Linked DNA regions of Homo sapiens: region 2 is linked to region 1. The links come from fine-mapping of genetic effects on gene expression. A gene starts in region 1. The other region holds a variant in brackets. All regions are shown on one strand. Distances are between the middles of the regions. Region 1 holds the start of CLPSL2 (colipase like 2). Region 2 holds the start of CLPS (colipase).

Region 1 (10,436 bases):
CAAGCTGAGCTGATAGCCTCTCAGCAGGGCCAGCCTGTCCCGGGAAGAAGTAAAATGAGAAGTGTGTGTTCTGAGCCCTGCCCCTGGTTCAGAGTATGTTGTGTGGGTGGGGTGACTAGAAGCTGGGAAAGAGCTGATCTCCCTTGGGCATGCTGGGCCTCTCCTTCTAGAGACCCTCCTGTCCTCACAGACAGAGCAGGGCAACCCCACCCTCACCCTGCACCCCTGGCTCAATGGCTCAGGTCCCCCTGCTCTGACTCTAGCATTGCCACCACCAACCCAGCTTTCCACTGAGGAGCCACCTCAACAGGGGCTATTCCCACAGACCCTCAAGTTCCTTTGCACGCTGACCGCCCCATCTCCAATCTGTATCCCCAACAAGCAGACACCATCTCCTTGCTGTTCTACCCACAGCTACTCACTGTCACTTCCAAACCTTTGCCCACCCTGTACCCCTGGTTGGAAACCCTTAGTCTCTCTGCTTGCCAAATCCCAGTCCCCCTTCAAGGCTTAGCAAAACAGCGCGGCCCTCTCCTGCCAGGGTCCGGGACATACAACCTTGAGGCCTCCACCTCCTCACCTCCAAACACTTCCCACTCTGGTCCTCTTCTCTAGGAAGGCTTTGCTGATCTATCTTTGCATATCAAACTCTTAGGGCACCCACTCGTTCCTCACTCTCCCCAGATTACTTTTAGAGTTCCTTCAGGAAGGACTTGAGTAATGCGCAATTTTCATGAGGTCAGTTTTCCCCAGAATTTTATTTTGGATTTCAAAGACTGATAAGACTTCCAAAAAATTCTGAGGACTAACAGAATTTGTGCACATATATTTAATATATTGGCCAAAAGCCAGTTTCGGTGGCTCAAGCCTGTAATCCCAGCACTTTGGGAGGCCGGTGGATCACCTAAGATCAGGGGTTCAAGACCAGCCTGGCCAACATGGTGAAACCCTGTCTCTACTAAAAAAAATACAAAAAAATTAGCCAGGCGTGGTGGCGGGCGCCTGTAATCCCAGCTACTTGGGAAGCTGAGGCAGGAGAATTGCTTGAACCTGGGAGGCAGAGGTTGCAGTGAGCCAAGATGGCACCTCTGCACTCCAGCCTGGGTGACAGCGCAAGACTTGGTCTCAAAAAAAAAAAAAAAGTATATATATATATATATATATATATATGCGCCAAAAAAGAACATGAACAATGAAACAAAACTACTACTGTATCGTGGCTATTATTGCTTTTTTAAAATATATTTTTAAATATTTTATTTTATTTTTTACCTCCAAATACCATCACCATTTTATTTAATTATTATTACTTTTTTGAGACAGTCTATCTCTGTCACCCAGATTGGAGTGCAGTGGCATGGCTCACTGCAGCCTCAACCTCCCAGGCTCGAGATCCTCTCACCTCAGCCTCCCATGTATTTGGGACCATAGGCAGATGCCACCATGCCCAGCTAATTCTTTTATTTTTTGTAGAGACAGAGGTCTCACTTTGTTGCCAGGTTGGTCTTGAACCCCTGATCGCCATTATTTCATAAAAGCACATTTTAACACCAAAGAAGTAGAAAAGACATAATTTCAGAATAAATAATTACTTTTTAAATTAAATACATTTCCCTGCCTGGGCAATATGTTGAGACGCTACCTCTACTAAAAATGCAAGAATTAGCTGGGCGTGGTGGCGCGCGCCTGTATTCTCAGCTACTTGGAGGGGGGCTGAGGCAGGAGACTTGCTTGAACCCAGGAGGCGAAGGCTGCAGTGAGCCCAGATCGCGCTACTGCACTACAGCCTGGGTGACACCTCAAAAACAAATTTTTTTTTAATAATAATAAATTGAATATATTTACCTTTAACAAAAACACTACTACATTATCCTTATTGTTTTCATTTTGCTGCAGACCAGTGAGAACATTGTCATGGAAACCACCACTTGCACCACCAGAAAGATGCAGAAGAAAAGAAGTGAGACGTTAGAGACTGTCAGAGGAGGGGAAGGTGAAGAGGCAGGAAATAGGGGGTAAGAAGTCCACCAGCAAGGTGCTCCCCTGTCCTGAACTGACCCCCTTCTGCTCACTGAAGTCTGAGGTGGCCAGTTTTGGGCCCTGGGCAGAGCTGTGGCCATGCTCACAGGTCAGGCAGCTCAGGGATTCCCGGCGCTGGAGACCCTGGTGATCTTGTTCCTACTCCCCCGCAATGCAGAGGTACCCTGGACATGTGCCTGTGACCGGTGCTGGCAGGCCATGGTACAGGACTTGGAGTCAGGAGCAGAGCTAGGCCTGGCTCTGCTACTCACCAGCTGAGTTACTGGGAGAAGTCCCTGCCTTCTCTGGGCCTCGGTTTCCTCAACTGAAAATAAAGGTTCTGAACTAGTTGTTTTTGAGGAAACCGGAAGATCTCTGGCTTAAGAAAAAAAAAAGCCATGCCCATAATATTTTGTACAGAATTCCAGGGGCTTCACCACCCCTCAGGGCCTTCAGTGGGTTCCCCAGGGGCTGCTAACCCTGACACGCAGTTGCTGGCCCCTTGCCTTCAAATTTGCCACTTTCCTAAGCAGTCAACAATACTTCTCAAGTATCTAACGGTCATGGGGGTATGGGCAAAGGAAGCCGGTGAAGCAGTACAAGGAAGTATCCATCCCCAGGCCTCCTCTCCAGTTCACAAATGGTCTGCGTGGATGGGTCGCTAGTCAGCCAAGGTAGCAGAACACACATATGAAGAGAGCTCAGACCGCGACTGCTGGAGCCCCCTTACTAGGTAATGATGGGAACCCCCTTACTAGGGCCAAAGCCCTCTGGCCGCCCGCAGCAGTGTAGATCAGTGGTAAGAACTTGGACCCAGGAGCTAGAATGCCCTGGATTTATATCTGACTCTGCCATTTAATCCTGTTCCTTGGGCAAGTAACTTTATCTTGAGCCTTCAGGTTCCTAGTCTGTAAAACAGGGCTAAGAGTTACGCAGCAGAAATGATAGTAGATGCTAAATATTCCAAGACTCCTTTGAATTTCCCAGCCTCCCTTGCAGAAGGTTAGAGGGTTGGGATCATGTGACTAGTTCCAGCAGGTGGTTTGTGAGTGGAGAAGGCAGGTCTTCCATGGAGACCTTGGATGCTAGTTTTTTTTTTTTTTTTTGAGACAGGGTCTCACTCTGTTGCCCATGCTGGAGTGCAGTGGCACGATCATAACTCACTGCAGCTTCAGCCTCCCGAGTAGCCAGGACTACATGCATGTGCCACCATGTCTGGCTAATTTCTTAAATTTTTTTTGTAGCAATGAGGTCTCACTATATTGCCCAGGGCTGGCCTTGAACTCCTGAGCTCACGAGATCCTCTCAGCCGGGCATGGTGACTCCCACTGGTAATCCCAGCACTTTGCGGAGGTTGCAGTGAGCCGAGATTGTGCCATTGCACTTCAGCCTGGGCAATAGCGTGAGACTCTGTCTCAAAAAAAAAAAAAAAAAAAAAAAAAAAAAAAACCAAAAAAACCCCCAAAACAACTGATCCTCTCTCCTTGGCCTCCCGAAGTGCTGTGAATACATGCATGAGCCACCATGCCCAGCCAGAGGCCAGTCTTATAGATGGCTACAGGATGGAAGAAGGGTATCTTGCCCCAAATCAGACTGTACATAAAGCATTATTGTGCCAAGCCACGAAATTCCAGGAGTTCTGTTGTTACAGCCAGTGTTAATTACTCTGTGACAGCTAGTGTTAATACAGGGAGGGCTCACGGAAATAATGGATACAAGGCCCTCTGAGTGCGGTGGGGGCTGTTATTCTTGGCTGTTATTCCCCACCAAGACAGGATTCCTCGGTTCATTTCTTAAGCGAAACTTCAAAAGCAGAAGCAGGCTGGGAGTGGTGGCTCACGTCTGTAATCCCACCACTTTGGGAGGCCGAGGCAGGAGAATCTCTTGAGCCCATGAGTTCAAGACCAGCCTGGACAACATAAGGACAACCTGTCTCTATAACAAATATTAACAATACAAAATTAAAAAAAAATAGAAATTAAAAAAAAGCAGAAGCAGGCAGGTGGGGTGAGGTGGAAGCTTCATCCATAGGGAAGTCCTGAGGAAGGCCTGCCTCCCCCGGTTCCAGGATTGCTCTGTGCAGCTCTAGCTCTCCCTTAACCCTCCTCCCTATTCTGAGTTTTCTTCTCTTCCCACTTCTCCATTTTGCCCCCACATCTTGACTTTCACACAATTCACAGACAAATCCTTAGACAATTAATAGAATGATTAAGACTGCAAGAGATTTAAGACTTAGAGACCATCTTGTCCCACCTCCTGGTTCTTACAGAAGAGGAGAATGGGGCCTGCAGCGGGTGTGAGCAGCCCAGAGGGTGGGGCTGGATTATCCCGAAGGTAAGGGGAGAATCTGGGGCTGCAAGGGCAGACAGAGAATCAACATCAGGAAGGAAGCTCTTTTTATTTCAGCATATATGTTTTGTGCCGTTTATAAAAATAAAGTTTTGAGGCCAGGTGCGGTGGCTCACACCTGTAATCCCAGCACTTTGGGAGGCTGAAGCAGGACCATCACTTGAGGCCAGGAGTTAGAGACCAGCCTGGGCGACATGGGGAGACCCCCGTCTCTACAGAAATTTTTAAAATTATCCCGGCGTGGTGGCGCACACCTGTAGTCCCAGCTACTCGGGAGGCTGAGGCAGGAGGATCACTTGAACCTGGGAGGCGGAGATGGCAGTGAGCCGAGATCACGCCACTGCACTGGGCGACAGTGCGAGACTCCGTCTGTAAAATAAATAAATACAATAAAATAGAGTTTTATCTTACAATAAAAATAGAGTTTTATCTTACAGTTTCAAGCTTCTACTTGGAAGTAACACGTATGGAGGCTCCCAGGGCCCCTACAGTCTGGAATCCCGCCCGTGCGAGCCTGAGCGCCTTTCCTCCCTCCTTCCCTTCCGCAGGCGTCCTCGCCCTCCACGTCCCTCCTCCGCCGGGGTGGCCTGGGGCGCCGGGTCACGTGGCCGGGGAAGAGGTTTTATCCCGCGGCCCCTCGGAACCCCGCCGCTGCTCTGCCGCCCAGGCCCATGGCCGCAGCCCTGGCGCTCGTGGCGGGGGTCCTGTCGGGGGCGGTGCTGCCCCTCTGGAGCGCGCTTCCGCAATATAAAAAGGTGAGCCGGGGAGCGCGCCCAGCCGGCCGCGACCGCAGGAGAGGGTGGCCCCGCCGCCGGGGCACTGGAGCCCGAAGGCGCCGGGCAGCCTGAAAGGGAGAGGTGGGTCCGGAACCACACCCAGGCGGGTAGCCTGGGGCATCCTCAGACGGACTTCAAAAGCCGCTTCACTTTCCCCTGGTGGCCTCAGAGGGGAGAGAAATTGGCCTATGACCAGCACCCTCGCTCCCTCCACCTCCCCCGCCCGTGCCCCTTCCGATGGCCTCAGTCCTGGGCTCGCTTCCCTCCCCAAACTGCTCACAGGCAAACCCACCCTGCATGCTCTGGTTTCTCCTCCTCTTCTTCCACCTCCTCTCACTGTCTAGTGATTCTTCCAGGCACGAGGGCTCTCCCCTTTTCTCCTCTTTCTCTCCCTCTTTTTCGAGCCCGCAGCCCCTTCATTCTCATCCCCCAACCCTGCCCCGCAAAATGGGACTTAAGAGTACACACCCCATGGGACTCATGGAGGTGAGGGGGGTCCAGGAAAGGAGAGGCCGAGGGAAAAGTGCTAATCCCCCTCTCCTCCTCTCTGCTGCCCTGGGTCCTGCTGAGGGGCCGGGGTGGGGCTGGGGGGGGAACCAGCCCCCCAAGGGGTGACAACCTCATGACTTCTCCTGGATCCCTGGGCTCTTTGGCAATGGTGGGAACCCTCCCCTACCCGCCCACACGACTCAGGGATTGCTCCCAGCCTGGCAGACATTCTGCCTGTCCCCACAGAAAATCACAGACAGGTGCTTCCACCACTCTGAGTGCTACAGTGGCTGCTGCCTCATGGACTTGGACTCCGGTGGAGCCTTCTGTGCCCCCAGGGCCAGAATAACCATGATCTGCTTGCCCCAGGTGAGGCCCTAGTATGGGGCAACTTCTGGCAAGTAGAGAAGCGGGCAGGGAGGTTAAAAAAAAAACACCTGGCCCCACCTGTTTTTTCACCTCTGTCTGGAGTGCCCTTCTTCTTCTCCACTTGGCAAACTCCTACTCATGGTGCAAAACAACTCCAGCCACCTCCTCTGAGAAGGCTTCCCTCCTTGGAGCTCCTGTACCCTGGGGTCAGACCCTCAGCAGACCATGTATCTCCCTAACTGGCCATGTCTTTTCTCTGCCTCTCCCAGTGGTTGGAACTCTTCAAGGGCAGGGATCGCATCATATTCATCTATGAAGCACCTACCCCCAGCTTAGTATCTGCACATAGTAGGTGCTCAATAAATGCTTATTGTTGTTTGTTTGTTTGTTTCGAGATGGAGTCTCGCTCTGTCACCCAGGCTAGAGTGCAATGGCATGATCTCGGCTCACTGCAACCTCTGCCTCCTGGGTTCAAGCGATTCTTGGGCCTCAGCCTCCCGAGTAGCTGGGATTACAGGGGTGCACCGCTATGCCTGGCTAATTTTCGTATCTTTGGTAGAGATGGGGTTTTGCCATGTTGGCCAAGCCGGTCTTGAACTCCTGACCTCAGGTGATCCACCTGGCTCGGCCTCCCAAGGTGCTGGGATTATAGGCATGAGCCACCGTGCCCGGCCAATAAATGCTTGTTGAATGAATGAATATCTCTTCTCTCACACCACTGAGGCAGGGTAAGTAGGAAATGACCTTCCCCTTACTAGTCCCCATCTCCCTGCCACAGTGACATGATTTCTTGAGAGGAGCATGGCACTGCAGTGGCAGGACCACAGCTTTGCAGTTGGACCTGAGTTTAAATCCTGACTTTTCCACACCCTATCTTTGTGACTTCAAGCAGGTCATCATGGCTCTCTGAGCCTTAGTTTCCTCATCTACAAGGAGAGGCTAAAGTACCTACCCCACCAGGCTGTTGGGAAGATTATGTGGTCCTGGCAAGGAGAGTGTGCAGTCCAGCATGGTTGTCACTCGCTTTTAGGAATGCAGGGAGCAGAATGCTCAGTACGCCCTGTTCCTGCCCACCTGGCCCTGGGCCCAAACCTTTCTAGGATGGATGGACCCAGCCTCTATGTCCCTGTGTGGGGAGTTGCCAATGCCCTAAGGAAGCAGCAGGGCCCCTACCATGGCCTGACCCTATAGCTGAAGTGGCTAGAGGGTTTTTATTTTTTTTATTTTTTGAGACAGAGTTTTGCTCTTGTTGCCCAGGCTGGAGTGCAATGGCGTGATCTTGGCCCACTGCAACCTCCACCTCCTGGGTTCAAGCAATTCCTCTGCCTCAGCCTCTGGAGTAGCTGGGATTACAGGCATGTGCTAATTTTTATATTATTAGTCCATGACCATGTTGGCCAGGCTAGTCTCAAACTCCTGACCTCAGGTGATCCACCCGCCTCGGCCTTCCAAAGCGCTGGGATTACAGGGGTGAGCCACCGCGCATGGCCTAAAGGGTCTTTTTATTATCACCACTTGATCTGCTCTATCTCATTTAGTCCTCACAACAACCCTATGAGGGGGGTTACTATTACTGTCCCCATTTGACAGATGAGGAAACCGAGCTGGAGAGGTTCATTGACTTGCTGAAGGTCACGCAGTTATAAGCTGTAGAGACAGCCCAGGTCTGTCTTACTCCAGGCCTGGTACTCTTGGTTCTGGTCCCCAAGAAGTTTAAGTCCCCATCCTTCCTGCATCCTGGTGACTCCCGATTCTCATACCCACTCCCTGCAGACCAAGGGAGCTACCAACATCATCTGCCCTTGCCGGATGGGCTTGACGTGCATATCCAAGGACTTGATGTGTTCCCGCCGGTGCCATATGATTTAGAGGAAGATGCAGGCTGGTCACTGCTCCCTTGGGGCCATAGGCCCTGGTTGCCACCAACTTGCTCCAAATCCAGCTCCTGAGACATTAAAGTCACTTCCTGTCCTTGGCCTCTGTCTGTACTTTCTGGGCGAGGGGACCTGGTGGAGATTGTACCAGTCCAGGGGGCAGGCAAAAGGGGAGACTGGAGGCATGAATGAGCTTCTAATGGGATTTGGCCCTGTCCGGAGGTCAGGGTAGAACTGCAGGAAGGGAATGGCACAGGGAGGGTGTGGTGGAGCAGGGGCTGGGTCTGGGAAAGGGCTGATTCTCTGGTTGGAGGGCTGTGTGGGAGAGACGGGATTGAGGAATGTACCTGGAGAGTGTATGTTGGGGTGCCTATGGAGGGGTGTGTGGTAGGGAGAGACTAGGTGGAGGTATCTGAATGTTTTGCGGGGCGGGTTGTGGGGCACAAAAGGGTAGAGATCATTAGAGAGTTGGTGAGAATGTGCAAAGTATAAATGCAGAAATGCCTGTGGTGGGAAAGGGACCTGGTGCATGGATGCCTCCGCTCTCTCAGGTATTGTCGGTTCACTGCATGGACAAAGAAACTGAGGCCCAGAGAAGCGACATGACTTGCCCTAGGTCATATCATTGGGGTAGCAGTGAGGCCTCTTTCTGCTGCAAGTATCTTAAAAACCAACTCAAATTGGTCTAGGTGAGGAGGGGATTTACTGGTGATGGGAAATGAAAGTCCAGAGGTCAGGCAACCCTTAGGTAGGGCCAGAGCCAGCAGCTCTCAGGCTGAATTCCTTCCCAGTAGTCACAAACATTCCAGGTGTCACCTAATAACAGGTAGGATTTATTGAGCACTTCCTATGTGCCAGACACTGTGCAAAGTGCTTTCTTTTTCATTTAATTAAAAAATTTAAGACAGCACCCAGGCTGGAGTGCAGTGGCTCGATCGCAGCGTACTGCAGCCTCAACCCCCTGGGCTCAAAAGATCCTCCCACGTCAGCCTCCCAAGTAACTGGGACTACAGGTGTGTGACACCATGCCCGGCCAATTTTTTTTCTTTTTCTTTTTCTTTTTTTTTTTTTAATAGAGACAGGGCCTCACTGTATTGCCCTGGCTGGTCTCAAACTCCTGGGCTCAAGTGATCCTCCTGCCTCAGCCTCCCAAAGTGCTGGGATTACAAGCATGAGCCACTGCGCCTGGCCCAAAGTGCTTTCTTAACTGTATTGACTCATCTTTTTGTCACAACAGGGCTATAGTAGGTGTTATAATTATCCCTATTTTACAAACAGGGTATCGAGGCTCCTAAAGTAAGGGTTGGAACTGAGACTTGAACCCAGACAATCCTGCCCCAGAGGCCAGGCTCTTAACCACAAATCCACCATGTACATCAATACTGTGCCTTTCAGAGAAAGAAAACATCTCTGTTCCACAATTTTCAGCAAACATCCTAAGATCGGTTCTGATTGGATTGGCTTAGTCTGCCTGAACTAATTATTGTGGTGGAATTTGCTGATTGGCCTAGCCTGAGTATTGTGCAGGATGGGAAAATTCTGACGGGGTTGGGTGCTGGTTTTACATGGTGTTCCCACAGCTGGGAGGACACCCACATGGTCGGCGTGCAGGATATTTCGCTGGACCCTAGAAAAGCCACCACGACCTGTGGGCCATGATGCTACCCCAATGGCTGCTGCTGCTGTTCCTTCTCTTCTTCTTTCTCTTCCTCCTCACCAGGGGCTCACTTTCTCCAACAAAATACAACCTTTTGGTAAGAAAGCTGGAGAGTGCAGTCACCTCCCCCTCCACTGTCCTAAGGCCTGTACTATTTGGGGAGGTGAGCGGGCATGGGGGCTAGTGTGGGAGAAGGCCAGAAGTGGGGGCAGCAGGGAGTGTTGGGTGGAAGATGTCTCGGAGGAAAGAGAGAACAACCTGGTCCTGGAAGCTGTGCCAGGGCAGTGCCAGGTGCTGCTGCCACAGAGGTGAATGTGAGAGAGCCCCCCTGCCCATGCGCACATGTGGTAAGGGAGACAGATATTCACTCATGCAACACATTTTTATTGAGCACCTACTATATGTAAATTATTTTTCTACATTTAGTGATAGGGCTGTGAGCAAGAAAGATAAAAATCCTTGCCCTTGTAGAGCTGTCACTCTAGTGTGTGAGGCAAAGAAGTAAAACATTACAATAGATGCTATTAATAATAGCATCTATCTCAGGTGATAAGCAAGGAAAGGGAAAATAAGAATCGAGCTGTGGGAGTGGTGGTGTGAGAAGGGTTTGCAGGTGTTTTTTTTTTTTTTCTTTTTCTTTTTCTTTTTTTTGGGACAGAGTCTTGCTTTGTCACCCAGGCTGGAGTGCAGTGGGGCAATCTCGGCTCACTGCAAACTTAGCCTCCTGAGTTCAAGCGATTCCCCTGCCTCAGCCTCCCGAGTAGCTGAGATTACAGGCACCCACTGCCACGCCCAGCTAATTTTTTTTTCTGTATTTTTAGTAGAGACAGGGTTTCACCGTATTGGTCAGGCTGGTCTTGAACTCCTGACCTCAAGCAATCCACCCGCCTTGGCCTCCCAAAG
Region 2 (10,293 bases), 20 kb after region 1:
ATTGGTAGAGGCTGCCGTTGTCAGAATCCAGAGAGATTTGTAGGGAATAAAGTACAGATGCTCCTTGACTTACGATGGGGCTACATCCTGATAAACACATTGTTTAAGTTGAAAATATCGTAAGTTGAAAATACGTTTAATAGGCCGGGCACGGGGGCTCACGCCTGTAATCCTAGCACTTTGGGAGGCTGAGGCAGGCGGATCACAAGGTCAGGAGTTCGAGACCAGCCTGACCAACATGGTGAAACCCCGTCTCTACTAAAAATACAAAAATTAGCTGGGCGTGGAGGGCACGCCTGTAATCCCAGCTACTCGGGAGGCTGAGGCAGGAGAATCACTTGAACCCGGGAGGCGGAGGTTGCAGCGAGCCGAGATCGTGCCATTGCATTCCGGCCTGGGTGACAGAGTTAGACTCTGTCTCCAAAAAAAAAAAAAGAAAAAGAAAAAGAAAATACATTTAATGGGCAGGTGTGGTGGCTTGTGCCTGTAATCCCAGCACTTTAGGAGGTTGAGGTGGGCGGATTGCTTGAGCCTAGGAGTTTAAGACCAGTGTGGGCATCATGGTGAAACCCCATCTCCACTAAAAATATAAAAATTAACTCCGGGCATGGAGGCTCACACCTATAATCCTAGCACTTTCGGAGGCCTAGGTGGGCAGATTGCCTGAGCTCAGGAGTTCGCAACCAGCCTGGGCAACATGGTGAAACCCCATCTCTACTAAAAATACAAATAAATAAATAAATAAATAAATTAGCTGGACGTGGTGGCATGTGCCTGTAGTCCCAGCTACTCGGGAGGCTGATTCAGGAGAATTGCTTGAACCTGGGAGGCAGAGGCTGCAGTGAGCCGAGATCGCACTATTGCACTCCACTCTGGGCAACAGAGACAGACTCCATCTTCCCCCCGCCACAAAAATAAATAAATAAATAAATAAATAAATTAGCCAGGCATGGTGGCACACGCCTATAGTTCTAGCACTTGGGGAACTGAGGTGGGAGGATCACTTGAGCCCAGGATGTCAAGGCTGTAGTGAGCCATGATCATGCCACTGCATTCCAGCCTGGGTCACAGAGTGAGACCCTGTCTCAAAAAAAAAAAAAAGTATTTAATACACCTAACCTACTGAATATCATAGCTTAGCTTAGCCTACCTTAAATGTGCTCAATCAGAATGCTTACATTAGCTGGGAAAAATAACACAAAGCCTATTTTAGAATAAAGTGTCGAATATATCTCATGTAATTTATTGATGTTCTACTGAATGCATATTGCTTTTGCACCATCATAAAGTTGAAAAATTGTCAGTCAAACCATTGTAAGTGGGGACCATCTGGTTCCTTGAGCTGTGGTTAGACTGTGCCTCTGCTGTGTAGGCGTGTGATGCTGAAAAGCAGCAGAAATTGAGAGTCTACAGGAGCACTGGCCGTTGGAAATAAAATGGAAGCTACATAATGGTTGGGGTCTTGGTCACTTGCTTCTGCAGAGCCCAAAGCCCAACTCCCTACTCACTTTTGAAGACCAGGGACATTTTCCTTATGCCCCCCACAGTCCAAAACACGGTGCCAGGCACACTGTGGTCATTCAGTGAACACATGAAGGGGACATGAATGCAGATCTCCAGGACCGAATGTGGCACCAAGAAGCGTGACTCAGCCCTGCTCAGGGCCTGAGACCCCTCCTGGGTTAAGGTATTGAAAGCTCCTCTTGTTGAGCACATAATTCATATGTGGCAGACACCATTACCTGGTTTCCTAATAGCCATTGCCCCCTTCCCTGCCAACTGAAACCCAATATTGTTTGGGCATCAATGAACCTGGCCCCAGGAGAAGGATCTTATTCCCTTTGCTTTCCCAGCGTCCCTTGCAGCTAGAAGTAGTCAGATAACCTAGTTCTAGCCACTGAGATATGAAGAGAAGTCGGCCTTGAGGATTTGAGGAAAGATAAGAAGAGGGTATGGTCCAGGTGCCATGGTTCATGCCTGTAATCCCAGCACTTTGGGAGGCCGAGGCAGGTGGATCACCTGAGGTAAGGAATTCAAGATCAGCCTGGCCAACATGGTGAAACCCTGTCTCTACTAAAAATGCAAAAAATCAGCCAGGCGTGGTGGCAGGCGCCTGTAGTCCCAGCTACTTGGGAGGCTGAAGCAGGAGAATCGCATGAACCCAGGAGGCAGAAGTTGCAGGGAGCCGAGATCGTGCCACTGCACTCTGGCTTGGGCAACAAGAGCAAAACTCTGTCTCAAAAAAAAAAAAAAAAAGGGTATGCAAGAAGAAACTCTCTGCTCCTTCTCCCGCCTTCCCAGCTGCCAGCTACTCCATGCTTCCTGCCTTCGAATACGGTGAGAACGTGAAGTCATGAGCTGCTGCTAAGGCATGTGGCAACCTTGAAGAGAAGGTCAAGAGCTACCAGCCACCAAAAGAATGCCAGCACTTCCTGTGTCTTTGCTTTGGATTCATGAGAAATATACGTTCCTATTTGCTTCAGCCATAATTACTTGGGTTTTTCTGCTACTCACAGTTGAATGCAATCCTAACTCATAAGCCTGTGGTTACAGGAGGATTCATTGATCACAGAACTGCAAGATCCTGGGGCTGGGACGACATCGAAGTTTCATTCAGTTCACTGTCCCTCACTCTCTGTGGGAATCTCCTCTCTAGCATCTCCACCGAGGGGTCAGTGAGCTTCCACCTGCGTACCTGGATGATGGGCACCTCAGTACTGCCTAAGGTAACTCATGTTTGATGGCTCCAGGGGATATACAATTTTTATATTAAGGCAAAATTAAATTCCTTGCAGTTTCCACCCATTTTTCTTAATGCGAATAATTGGGAAAGAAAAAGGAATCATAAGGCCGGGCACGGTGGCTCATACCTGTAATCCCAGCACTTTGGGAGGCTGAGGTGGTGGATCACCTGGGGTCAGGAGTTTGAGACCAGCCTGGCCAACACGATGAAACCCCGTCTCTACTAAAAACACAAAAATTAGCCGGGCGTGGTGGTAGGCGCCTGTAATCCCAGCTACTAGGGGAGGCTGGGGCAGGAGAATCGCTTGAACCTGGGAGGTGGAGGTTGCAGTGAGCCAAGAGATCACTCCGCTGCACTCCAGTCTGGGCAACAGAGAGAGACTCTGTTTCAGAAAAAAAAAAAAAAAGGAATCATAGAAGCAGGGCAGTGGAGTTAGATGGTAGAGTGCCAACATTTTCTGATTATGTGACATTGGGCAAGCTCCTCTCTGAAACTTGGTCTCTATCTATAAAGTGGAGATGAGAAATTCTCCCTCCTGGGATCCTTGTGAGCATTTGCTGGCAGAGAGTAAGCTCATAGCAATTGAGAGTGGTCTGACCCCTTAACACATGAGTTGTGTCAGCTAGCTGTCATATTTGAGAATTGTGTCCAGAAAAGAGGTGAGAGCCCAGGATTCTGATGCCTCTGATGCAGGGTGACGAACATGGGCCATTAAAACTCCTTACCCACAAGTGTGTGTGTGTGTGTGTGTGTGTGTGTGTGTGTATGTGCGCGCGCATGCACATGTGCCCGCTTGTCTCTTTGAGAACCGGAGGGACAAGGAGGGCATCCCAGGTAGGTGTGACTTCTCCCCAGAAATGGAGGGTTTCCTAGGCTGGCTGGGTCTCCTTCACAGCTTTGTCTTCAGTCTCCAATCTGTTTGGCCACAACTTCTTCAGCCCCAGACCCATCCCTTGTTCTTCTGACCTGCCTGAAGCCTGCCCTGGTGGACCAAAGGCCTGATGCAACTTCAGAGAAGATGCTGAGTCAGAAAGAATATGCAGGAGACTGGGAAAGGTTTGCAGGAGGCCTTTAATTGTGAAGAGCGCAATCAGAAAACAGATATGCTGGTCAAGGAGGTGGCCAGCCCGGGAGATGCGCTGGAGCAGGGGAGAGATGCCCCTGCGCCTAGTGGCCTACAGCATTCTGGGCTAGGTGTGGGAGTGGGTGGGCAGTCTCACTGCTTGGAGCGTCCAGCGTCATGGCAGATGCCAAAGTTGGTGTTGGTGATGGAGCCCACGATGGTCTTGTCTCCCTCACAGGTCAGGCCACGCTCACAGGGACACTTGTAGTAAATCCCATAGAGCGTCTGCAGAGACACAGCCAATGGAGTCAAGGCTATGGGGAGATACTTTGGACATCACTTGTCCCCTGCCTGACCTAGAGAACCAGTAGGCCAGCCTGTGTTTTCGGGGAGTGCCTCTCCCACCTGCCTCCCCAGGGGTGCCGTGGGCCCTGGAGACCCCAGCTCTGACCTCTGCTCTGGCTCATTTGCTCTTACTAGCTTGATCTCTCTGGGGAGCCTCTATTTACCCAGCCATGAAATGGGGATAACAAATCCCCACCCCCACCCATCTCACTGGTCACTCGGGAGGGTCAAGAGAGATGATGGGATGGGAAAGTGCTTTGACACCTGTCGACCTCCCTCTCGTCTCCTCAACATTCAGTGTCCAGGCTGACCCCCCTCCCTGATCCCACTCACAAGTGTTCAGGGCCCTACTCCCCATTCTCCCCCACCCACGCCAAGTCCTCAGGCACCCACCTTGACAGAGCACTCGCTGTTCTCGCTGGCCATGGATGTGCAGCGGGCCAGGCCCAGCGCACTTGAATGCTGGCAGCAATTGCTCTTACACTGGGCACTATTCATGCAGAGCTCACCGTTCTCCTGCCAGGAGCAGCCAGTCAGCCCAGGCCCCACTCCCTCAGGTCCCTTCTCCATTCAGACCTGTACCCACCACACACTACCACTAACAGTGTCTCCCCTGGTAGGGATGTGTGTGAAGGAGTCCATCCCCTGGGTCTGGTGGCCTCTGTGCCCCCCACCCACGTGAGAAGTGGGCATGCGGTGACAGAGAAGCAGACTTGCACAGAGGGTCAGGACCCCTGGGTTCTAGTACCGGCTGTGCTACCAACCTCCTGTGTGACTCTGGGCAAGTCACTGCCTCCCAAGCCTCAGTGTTCCCATTTGGAATGTGCACACAAGGCCCCTAGACAAGTTCTCCAAACCACTCTGGGTCCCACACCTCTTTAAGGAGGCGGTGAAGATTGCATCTCCCTGCAAGACTCCTTCCTCCCCCAACAGATCTGATCTATAATCTCCAAGGGTCCTGGACCTCCAAGTCCAGCCATGGCCCCAAGTTAAGAGAGTTCAGAACCTTTCAACCGCATGGACGTTCTGGAAGGGCTTTCCCAGCCAAGACCCATGGTGGAGAGGTGGTGTGGGGCAGTGGTGGGGCCCCAGCTGAACCACTTTCCAGCTATGTGACCTCAGGCAGGTTGCTCACCCTCTCTCTGTCTGAAGACAGGGCTGACTCTGAAAACACCTCCCTCAGTGGTTATTATGAGAACAGAATGAGTAAACATCTCCGAGGCATCTCCATAAGTCAGAAGCTGGAATGATTGGCGCAAAGCATTTTCTCAGGATGGAAGCCCAGGGCTCTGGATTTTTACAAAGCTCCCTCGTAGGGCCAGGTGAGGTGGCTCATGCCTGTAATCCCAGCACTTTGGGAGGCCGAGGTGGGCGGATCACGAGGTCAGGAGTTTGAGACTAGCCTGGGCAACATGGTGAAACCCTATTTCTACTAAAAATACAAAAAATAGCTGAGCGTTATGGCAGGCACCTGTAATCCCAGCTTCTTGGGAGGCTGAGGCAGGAGAATCATTTGAACCCGGGAAGCAGAGATTGCAGTGAGCCGAGATTGTGCCACTACACTCCAGCCTGGTGACAGAGCAAGACTCCGTTTCAAAAAGAAAAAAAAGAAAAAAAAGGTCCCTCATAGCCAGGTTGAGCTGCTGCTCTGAGCATGCTCCAGTTGGAGCTGGAGAGGGGCTGATCAGCCTTTCCTGTGGCCTCTGGGAAGAGGCATAGGACAGGACATGGAAGTAAACAGAGGGATGCAAGATGCCACTCCTCCCAGCCCCTGCCAGTCCAGGTGGAGACATCAGAGGTCAAGGTCCAAGCTTAGGAAGTCTTCATCTGGGGACTCAGGAGGCGCCTCCCCTGAAGACCCTCTTACCAGGTTGATAATGATCCCCCGGGGGCCAGGAGCTGCATAGGCCACAGAGAGGGCGACAAGCAGGAGGATCAGGATCTTCTCCATGGTGAGTGGGACAGCTGGTGTGGGTGGCGGGAGACAGAGCCAGCTGTGGTGATGGGGCTATAAAAGGGGCCCTGACCTCACGAGATCCACCTGCATCCCACAGGGCTGGCCGTGGGCAGAGGCACAGCTGTGGCCAATCTGCTGTGGGGCGGTTCCTGATAAGGAAACTGGGTGAGTACCTGGTGGCCTTTTTCGTGTGTGTGTGTGTGTGTGTGTGTGTGTGTGTGTGTGTGTTGGTGATAATTGTGTTGCATCGTGGTTAAGAGTATGGACTGTGTACAAGTTATTAGTGAGGCAAACTTACTATCTGTTCCAACTATTCTGCCTTTCATCTTATCTGTCAACTAAGGATAATTTAAAGAGTTGTGAGGGTTGAATTAATACACAT[T/TTA]TATGTGTTACATATATATAAACATTATTATATACAATTATAAGAATATATTTATATTGTATATTCCCATATGCCACATAAGCAGTGGGTAAGGGTGGCTGCCCTTGTGTCTTGAGCTCCTGGGCAGTGCCTGGACGAATCCAAGGCAAGAGAGGCACCTATGGTGTGAGTGCCTGCTTACATTCTGTGTACTTGGGGCCTCTCTGCCTCACTATAGTCAGGCCTTGCCTTTGGCCCACCCAAGCCCAGGTGTCTAGCAGTGTCAGACTCCAGGGACGAGGATCCTAGCCTCCCACCCCTCAACCTTCCTTCAGTCTCCTCGGGGGATTCCAGGCCATGCCCAGATCCCTGGGGCTGACAGTTCTGCAACCCCCAGCAGGCCAGGGTGTGTGTGCTTTCACTTTGGCACCCTCCCCCTGCCCTCACACCAGGGGCTGCCTGCAGGCCTGACTCAAGGGCCCTTAGGAGGCCCTTCCTAAATGCCTCTCTCCCCTTTCCTTTCTACCTCACTTACTATCTGCAATTCCAGCATCAGATACTCACCCCTTTAGTTAAGGTTTCCACTCACGCTGCCCCCTACCCAAGGCCACGTGCGCGCGTGAGCAGTCGCTAGTCCTGGCTGAGAATGAAGAGGTCTCATGAGCCTCAGATGGAGCAGGGGCCTCAGGAAGCTGGGAAGGGCACAGCTGCCTGAGTTTGCTCAGGCATGGGAACAGAGCAGCTTTTCCTGAAGGACTAGTCATGGCAGCCAGAGGCCCCTGCCCTTCCCCTCTCCATCCCAGGAGGTAGAAGACAGCTCCACTGAGAGGCCCAGGCCTCAAGCACAGCTTTTAATTTAATTTAATTTAATTTTTTGAGACAAGGTCTCACTCTGTCACCTAGGCCGAAGTGCAGTTGTGCCATCTTGGCTCACTGCAGCCTCCACCTCCTGAGATCAAGCAATCTTCCCCCTAAGCCTCCCAGGTCTAAAACTCGTGGGCTCAAGCAATCTTCCCACCTCGGCCTCCTAAAGTGTTGGGATTACAGGTGTGAGCCACTGTGCCCAGCCTCAAGCACAGCTTTGATCCAGACCAAGCTGGCTTCAAAATTCAGCATTTACTGGAGCTACGTGGCCTCAGACACATTATTGAAAGTGAAGCTCCCTGAACCTCACTTTCCTTATTTATCTTAGGGGGATAACGCCTCCTACTTCCTGAGGTCATGATTAAGACAATGCACGTGGAACACCTTCGGAAGTGCCTGGCACATGGTGGGTGCCCAGCCATGTAATATGACCCCCTTCCTCTCACCTTTACATCCCTGGGGTGTGGAATGTAGAGAAATAGCTGGAGGAACAACCAGGAGACTCTCAAAATGAGAAAAACCAATTTGGTTCCAGCGATGCAGAAATACCATTGATGAAAGAACACTATCCCCCCTCTCTTTTATAGAACTCAATGTTTGAAAGCACTTTTTCCTATGAGTTCACTCTGATCCTTCCTTCTCTTTTCTCTACCTGCTCCCCACCCCCAGGACCTCTGTGAGGTGAGCCACAGAGAAGGGAATCACTATTCCCTTCTCACAAGTCAAGATGGAGACTGGCAAAGGAATCAGAGGAGTGATTTCTCTCCATGAAGGGAGCTGTGAAAACCATCAGCCCTGTCCCTAGTTGGTCTCAGCCAAGCTTGCAAAGAAAAAAGGCTGGAGTTTTTTCCATTACAAATGAAGTGTAGCAAAGAGAACTTTGACACTGTATGTGCTTCTAAAAGGAAAGCAAAAATTAAGTACCTGTCAATGAAAAGAGTCAAACTCTGTACAATATTTGAATAGATTTATTCTGAGCCAAATATGAGCAACCATGGCCTGTGACACAGCCCTCAGGATGTAACCACTGAAGGGGTTCACCTTGCCCACTACCTAGATAGAGCCGATTCATCAAGACAGGGGAATTGCAGTGGAGAAAGAGTATTTCATGCAGAGCCGGCTGTGCAGGTGCAGGAGACTAGAGTTTTAGAGTTGTTGTTGCTGTTGAGACAGAGTTTCGCTCTTGTTGCCCAGGTTGGAGTGCAATGGCATGATCTTGGCTCACTGCAACCTCCGCCTCCTGGGTTCAAGTGATTCTCCTGCCTCGGCCTCTCGAGTAGCTGGGATTACAGGCATGTGCCACCATGCTCGGCTAATTTTGTATTTTTAGTAGATATGGGGTTTCACCATGTTGGTCAGGCTGGTCTTGAACTCCTGACCTCAAGTGATCCACCTGCCTCAGTCTCCCAAAGTGCTGGGATTACAGGCATGAGCTACCATGCCCAGCAGGGAGCAGAGTTTTTGAAGATAACTTGGTGGGTGGGGGGAAGCCAGTGAGCCAGGGGTGATGATTGGTCAGAGATGAAATCATAGGGACTCAGAGCTGTCTTCGTGCACCCAGTCAATTACTGGGTGAGGGCCACAAGATCAGATGAGCCAGTTTATTGATCTGGGTGGGGCCAGCTGATCCATCAAGTGCAGGGTCAGCAAAATATCTCAAGCACTGATCTTAGGAGTAGTTTAGGGAGGATCAGGATCTTGTAGCCTCCAGCTGCGTGACTCCTAAACCATAATTTCTAATCTTGTGGCTAATGTTAGTCCTACAAAGGCAATCTAGTCCCCAGGCAAGAATGAAGTCAGCTTTGGGAAAGGGCTGTTACTGTCTTTGTTTAAACTATAAACTAAGTTTCTCCCAAAGTTAGTTCAGCTTACGCCTAGGAATGAACAAGGACAGCTTGGAGGTTAGAAACAAGATGGAGTCACTTAAGTTAGATCTCTTTCACTGTCTCAGTCATAATTTTGCAAAGGTGGTTTCAGAATGAGGAGAAAACAAAGAAAATGACCCCCTTTTGAGCACTCCGTAGCTTTTATGGCACCTCTACCTGACAAAGTTTATGTAAAATGGAAATAACGTGGTCTTTGTGCACATTTACATTAAGGAAAAAGAGCCCTAAGGTTGACCTGCAAACTATAGAATTCCTAAGTCATCTTTTTCTCTATTTTTCTTTTCTGCCTGCTCTAAATCTTCCTTCCTTCCTTCCTTCCCTCCTTCCTTCCTTCCTTCCTCCCTCCCTTCCTTTCGATGGAGTCTCACTCTGTTGCCCAGCCTGGAGTGCAATGGCACAATCTCATCTCACTGCAACTTCTGCCTCCCGGGTTCAAGTCATTCTCCTGCCTCAGCCTCCTGAGTAGCTGGGATTATAGGTGCCTGCCACCACACCCAGCTAATTTTTTGTATTTTTAGTAGAGATGGGGTTTCACCATGTTGGCCAGTCTGGTCTGGAACTCCTGACCTCGTGATCCGCCCACTTTGGCCTCCCACAGTGCTGGGATTACAGGCGTGAGCCACCGCGCCCGGCAATCTGCTGTTATTTTTCTATTAAGAGAAAAACCACTGTTTAGATCCAACAAGTTCTTTTTGCAAGCCAGGTGAATTTGTATTTATTTCATGGCTAAAAGTTCTGAAGTAAAAGCTACAAGGTGTGTGTGTGTGTGTGTGTGTTTAAAAGGCCTTTATAATTTCCATACTTTTATGTTTAATTGGCAATTAAATCTGTTTTAATTTCCCTCTAGAACACCAGACTTTTCTTGGCGCACCTTATAATGTAAATTTTGCTGTTTGACTTTCATCTGAACTGTTTCCTTTAATATGCAAATTTAAGGCTATTTAGCTGTCAACTGCCTAGGGTTGTGAAAGAGGTTATCAAGAATTTGATAACTCTTGAGGTCAGGTGTTTGAGACCTTCCTGGCCAACCTGGTGAAACCCCGTCTCTACTAAAAATAGAAAAATTAACTGAGG

What was found.
Region 2: its variant is fine-mapped to the expression of CLPSL2 in pancreas (GTEx, PIP above 0.99).

The regions. Positions count from the first base shown.
Region 1 is chr6:35,771,580-35,782,015 of GRCh38, forward strand. It overlaps CLPSL2 (colipase like 2), which reads left to right and starts at 5,019. Exons shown (of 3, transcript NM_207409.4): 1 at 5,019-5,123; 2 at 5,880-6,002; 3 at 7,776-7,973. The coding sequence starts at 5,040. The coding sequence ends at 7,871. CLPSL1 (colipase like 1) reads left to right here and starts at 9,440. Exons shown (of 3, transcript NM_001010886.5): 1 at 9,440-9,630. The coding sequence starts at 9,532. It also overlaps the pseudogene CMPK1P1. RefSeq lists a silencer at 5,000-5,129.
Region 2 is chr6:35,791,187-35,801,479 of GRCh38, forward strand. It overlaps CLPS (colipase), which reads right to left and starts at 6,137. Exons shown (of 3, transcript NM_001832.4): 1 at 6,019-6,137; 2 at 4,545-4,667; 3 at 3,796-4,091. The coding sequence starts at 6,102. The coding sequence ends at 3,960. It also overlaps a transcript of CLPSL1 not described here. The variant T/TTA (reference allele first, on the strand shown) is at 6,491.